Linked DNA regions of Homo sapiens: region 1 is linked to region 2. The links come from fine-mapping of genetic effects on gene expression. Tissue or cell type: whole blood. Region 2 holds a variant in brackets; the other region holds the start of a gene. All regions are shown on one strand. Distances are from middle to middle.

The links. PIP is the estimated chance that this variant, and not a neighbour inherited with it, causes the effect.
Region 1: it holds the start of PNMA5, and the variant in region 2 is the best candidate, but not a certain one, in a credible set for the expression of PNMA5 in whole blood (TOPMed, PIP 0.59).

What each region holds. Positions count from the first base shown.
Region 1 is chrX:152,992,775-152,995,681 of GRCh38, forward strand. PNMA5 (PNMA family member 5) reads right to left here and starts at 1,342. Exons shown (of 4, transcript NM_001184924.2): 1 at 1,259-1,342; 2 at 1-12.
Region 2 is chrX:152,967,186-152,970,092 of GRCh38, forward strand. ZNF185 (zinc finger protein 185 with LIM domain) reads left to right here. Exons shown (of 25, transcript NM_001395254.1): 22 at 1-53; 23 at 2,197-2,299. Among named protein-coding and RNA genes, the nearest start is that of PNMA5, 25 kb to the right of the region's middle. The variant T/C (reference allele first, on the strand shown) is at 1,564.

The sequences.
Region 1 (2,907 bases), 26 kb after region 2:
GCTTCACTGGATCTGTCCAAGGCAAAGCAGAGGTATTTTGCTGTGATTCTGTCCCACACACATGTCCCTGCCCAGGCCATGCCAATTCAGACTCTGCATAGGTGTTCACTAGGACCCTGGTGCAGGGATAGAAGAAACTGCTCAACTGACAGAGGGAGCGGAGCGGGGGGAGGAGTCGGGGGACGAATGGTGAGAGGGGTGGGAGGTGAGGAGGGAGGTAGGGGGTGGGGGCAGGGGGGCTGCTGGTAGGGCAGAAGGGATCCTAAGGTAAGGTTGCTGCCCTACCCCCACTGCAAACTCCATTCCCTCCCAAGCTCCGCCCCTACAGCCATGTTGCAACCCTTCCTAAGCCCCACCTCAAAACCTGCACCCCTGCTGCCAAACTCTGCCTATAACTAAGTTGCACCTCTACCCCAAGCTTAGCCCCCCACCAAGTCTAACCCCTTCCACCACCCAAGTCTAACTCGTGCCTCAAGCCCTGCCCCCACCCACAGTCCAACTCCTACCCCAAGCCCTGCCCCCTCACCAAGTCCAACTCCTACCCCGAGGCAAGTCTAACTGATATCCCCAAATCCCCTACCTCCATTCCCCTGCTCCCCCCAATCCCCACCCGGTTATCTACATACACCCACACCACCGACATCAGTGGAAGCAGGCAGAATCTAGGAGGGGAAGGTTCGAAGCCACTTTCCCTCAAGGGCAAGGGCCAAGAGCTACTATCCTGACTGCAGTGTCTCCGGGCAGGTCAAGGGTGGAATAGGTCTCCCTGAAGTTTGTTTGTTTTTCTCTGAAACGGAGTCTGGCTTTGTCACCCAGGCTGGAGTGCAGTAGCGTATCTCGGCTCACTGCAACCTCCGCCCCCTGGGTTCAAGTGATTCTCCGGCCTCAGCCTCCTGAGTAGCTGGGATTACAGGCGTACACCACCACGCCCGGCTACTTTTTGTATTTTTAGTAGAAACGGGGTTTCCCCATGTTGGCCAGGCTGGTCTCCAACTCCTGACCTCAGGTGATCCACCCGCCTCGGCCTCCCAAAGTGCTGGGATTACAGGTGTGAGCCACCGCGCCCGGCCAGGTCTCCCTGAAGTTCTGCCTGGAAATGGCAGGGATTCCTTGGCGTGCTGGGTGTGATCTAGTGGGATCCCGCCTCCAGGGAAACCTATGGCCACCAGCCCCTAGACCCCGTGGAAAATAGCAAGAGTTACTGGGGGGTTCCCCCGTAATCTGGGTTGCTGTCCGAGCCCGGGGTCCAGCTCCGTACCTGCCGGAGGTGCCTCCAAGCCGGAGTTCCCGCGCAGCGCGACCACCACACGTCTATGGCGGCTGCCGCCTCCGTGCTGACTGCGCCACGAGGCTGTGGCGGGAAGAGGTTGTCTGGTGACGACCGCCCCCCTACCCCATGAGCGGAACTGCACACGGCCCGCTCACGGTTGCGCACTGGTGACATAAACCCTCCTACTTCCTGCAAGGTGGTTCCTCACCCCACCCACCCCCGTGCCGACGACGGTGGCAGCCAGGCTCGCCACGTGCCATTTGGCCCAGCAGCCACTGTGGCTCTTCCTCATTGGAGGGGAGCTGTGGCGTCCCAAGCCCATGGGTGAAGGGCCGGGTGCAAATCACCCAGTGCAACGTATAGGCCACGTGAGCGCCCTTATAAACGAGTCATAGCCCTCGTTTATTTTTTATTGGACTGTTCTAGGGGAGGAGGGCAAAAAATACAGCTACTGCCTGCATTTCACAAGGGCATTAGTTTTTTTTCGCTGCTCACTGAGAGCCAGATGACTGAAAATATTCCATTCTCCCATTATTCTCCTGATTTCACGACCAAACATTACGCACCTAGTACCCAAACTGCTTCCTGTCGTTTCCCAAAGCAGGTTTCTTCCACAGAGGGAAGGTCCTGCGGCTTGCAGCGGCCCGAAAGTACTGTTCCAGAAAAGGGTGTGGGTGCGGCACAGGTAGCACACTTCAAGGTGCACACAAATCCCCTGGTAATCTTAAAAAAATGCGTGAAGAGATCTGAGGCAGGGATGGTTCCACTGAAAGCTAGGTTACTTGCTGCATATCCCTGCCCAGGCTGTGTGGAGCAAGGGTCTGAAGCCTATGATTACATTTCAGGGCCAGAAGTTGTGGACCTTTAGTGACAGAATATATTTGTTTTTCTTTCTCTGTGATTAAAAAAGAAAAGGCTTTTTCTGGTACTGTTTTAATAAATATGTTAAAAGCGGACAACATTTTAAATTTATGGTCACTGAGAAAGATATTTGCAGATATCACCTTCTTCAGCCAGGTGTGGTGGCTCACACCTGTAATCCCAGCACTTTGGGAGGCCAAGGTGGGCAGATCACTTGAGATCAGCCTGGCCAACATGGCGAAACCCCGTCTCTACTAAAAATCCCAAAATCAGCTGGGTGTGTAATCTGAGTAGCTGAGTAGCTGTAATCCCAGCTACTCAGGAGGCTGAGGCACGAGAATCGCTTGTACCTGGGAAGCAGAGGTGGCAGTGAACCCAGATCACACCACTGCACTCCAGCTTGGGCAACAAAGTGAGAGCCTGTCTTTTTTTTTTTTTTTTTTTGAGAAGGAGTCTCACTCTGTCACCCAGGCTGGAGTGCAGTGGCGCGATCTCGGCTCACTGCAAGCTCCACCTCCTGGGTTCACACCATTCTCCTGCCTCAGCCTCCCGAGTAGCTGGGACTACAGGCGCCCGCCACCACGCCCGGCTAATTTTTTGTATTTTTTAGTAGAGACAGGGTTTCACTGTGTTAGCCAGGATGGTCTCGATCTCCTGACCTCGTGATCCACCCACCTCGACCTCCCAAAGTGCTGGGATTAGAGGTGTGAGCCACCGTGCCTGGCCGAGATCCTGTCTGGAAAAAAAAAAAGACAATTCAGAGCCCATTAAATCAA
Region 2 (2,907 bases):
TCATTCGCCATGGAGAAGAAGCCTCCATGTGGCAGCACTCCATACTCTGAGAGGTATGTTGACTTTCTTAGCACGGAGCTTGCACTTCTACAGAGGAGAATCAGGGAAGGGAGAGTTCCTGCTGAGTCTGTTTGCTTTTGTCTTCTGCTTTGCAGCCTCCAATCCATTTGCAGAAAGGTGAAGGACACTACCGTAGGGTGGTGCTTCCCTTGTTGGGATATCACACTTGTGACAACTAAAGCCTTTGAATTGAGCTAAGACTAGAGGGTAGATACCAGCGGTGACTGAGAAGGGAAGTGGTGGCATCTGACAACCCAGAGGACTCGTGTCAGCAGGAGGGGCCCTTCAGATTAGAACCTAATCAATCACTTCATTAACTTGCAAATCTAACCAGAAGTAAAAATAAAATGACTACAAAAGAGAGGAGTGGGCAGAGAAGGAAGAAAAATGGGCTGCTGGCATCAAGAAGCCAGAAAGACACACAAAGCCAAGAATGCCCAGTGCTGTGGAGCCACCAAATTGAAAGCAGGGGCAGAGAACACCTCGTTCAGCAGTTTTGAAAGCTGTCACTAGATGATGGCACAGTCACTAGAGAGTCTTAATGACAAAGAAATCTTATGTTCAGATTCTTGGAATGGGGAGAAGAGAGTCTCAGAGATTGAGTTCACTCAGGCTTCTGTGAAGAAAATGGAATAAATAGCCTTCAGTCCACAGTAAGCAAATACGGCAGACCCAGGACTAAACCCCAGGGCCCTGACTACTCCCAGGTTAGGGATGTTTCTACTCTGCCATCTTGCTTCTCATTGATGGGCAGATCTTAATTCATGTGGATGACATTCAGAGACCAAAGCTACATTGGGGAGGAAAAGGAAGGAAGTAAGAGGGTTAAGATAAAGAGAATCCTACCGGGCCCCAGAGGCAAACATATAGGAGCAGACAAGCATATGGGGCCAGGGAATCTCCTCCACTATAGCTGAAGAAGCAGGTGGTTCTGAGTAACTACAGATTACTTGGTGAGGCACATCAGCAGATGAAGTCTTAGCAGAGAAGGGCAGGTTGGTCAGAAACCTGAGAGTTAACCACTTACATAGGAGCAAATGGAATGAGGCTTCCAATTCTAGTGGAGTGACAAACCAGATACTCTAGGGACCCCCCTTTCCATTGCACAACTACTAAATCCAGAATCAGTCATTACTGATCCATTGCTAGGCTTGGAGGAAGGAAGGGGACTCTCTAGGGACAATCTCAGTCACTTGCACACATGCATATGCACAGACACACATGCACGCACACAAAGAACAGCTGTGAGCTGGTGCTGCTGGTGGTGAAAGAAGCAGGAGGAGCAGGGCTGCGCTGAGGGCAAGGATTTCAAGCAGCACTGCTGTCCAGAGTGAACCCTGGGCCAGCAGCAGGATGGTGGGCCACACCCAAGCTGCCCGTGACACTTCTGGGTCCTCCGACAGAGCTAACGTGGATCTAGATTGTTAATGTCCCCCCGCCCCTTGGGCTTCTGTCAGAAGCAGACCCAAATCTCTGGAAGAAAGTACCCTGAATTTTGGCTTG[T/C]AGGATCAGATCAAGCAGTTACTTTGAGGAAGTGCAGTCTGAGGAAGAAAAGCAGAGGTGACTCTCAGAAACAGGCATCCTGGAACTGGAAAGATGCTCAACCCAGGAGTCAGTATCTAGAACTTCAGTGTCGGATCTGAGTAGGCTCTACAGACAGAGCATGAAGGGTGGGTCCAGGAGTATAGGCAGGGGCAGAGCTCAGTTGGCCCAGGCGTGAGGAGAAGGGCCATCAAGACGGGGCCAGGCAGGGCACACAATGACATGTCTCCTGTAGGAGAAGGCATTGGTCTTCCTGCTCTAGAGGGTAGCAGGCCCCAGCGGATAATCTAAGCAGAAGGTCAGGGGGAGGCAAACTGTCTGGAATAAGTATCATATCAGGACATCTACAGGAGACATGTCATTGTGAGCTGGAAAAAGATGCATGACTAGTTTTTGGAAATAATGCAGAGGTCTACAGCAGGCTGAGAACTGATCTGGCCCAGGGCTGTGCTGCACACCACAGAAAACAGTGGCATCCTGGGGATCCTGACAGCAAACCTGGGCCTGGCTGCACCAAATTGGAAGGTCTGGCTGTGTCACATCAGAGGTCTGTACACCAGCCTGACCACCGGGTTATTGTTCTTCATCTCACAGGACAACTGGAGGGATCTGTACTTACTGCAACCGTGAGATCCGAGACTGTCCAAAGATTACCCTAGAACATCTTGGTATCTGCTGCCATGAATATTGCTTTAAGGTAAAAAAGAGGTGGAAGACACCTTGAGCTAGGCGGTAACTCCTGATCACGTGCTGCTAAGAACGTTTTGTAGAGTGCGGGAGTCTTACGGGTTCAGAGACTGTGGAGGAGGCTTGATCTCCATATACAATTGCACATAGTCGCAGAGGCTTTGCACAACTGGGAGCTGAATGAGCTTCCAAGTCTAAGACAGTAGATGAGTGTTGGTGGTTCTGCATGCTTAGTACTGTAGGGAAGACAAAAGAGGTCTTTTCAGGAAAGACTATTTCTGGCAGAGGGCCAGCAAGTGCAAAAGCCCTGGGGCAGAAGCACTAGAGTGTTCTAGCTTGCGTGGGAGAATGCCAGGAGTGACAGAGTGGGCTAGATCATGTAGGCCTTGGCGGGCACAGAGTTTGGATTTTATTCTAAGTGACATTGGGGTCCCCATTCTCCACAGTGTGTGGCACTTTGTAACCCCAGGTTGTTGGTTCCAATCCATTTAGGGTGTCACCTCTGGGTGCACTGAGAAAAACAACCCTCCCCTTTGCCTTGACAGAATGTTAGGCAGGCTTCTGTCCTCCCCACAGGGCCTGAACTTTGCTTGCTCCTGGTTAAGTAAGTGCTGCAAT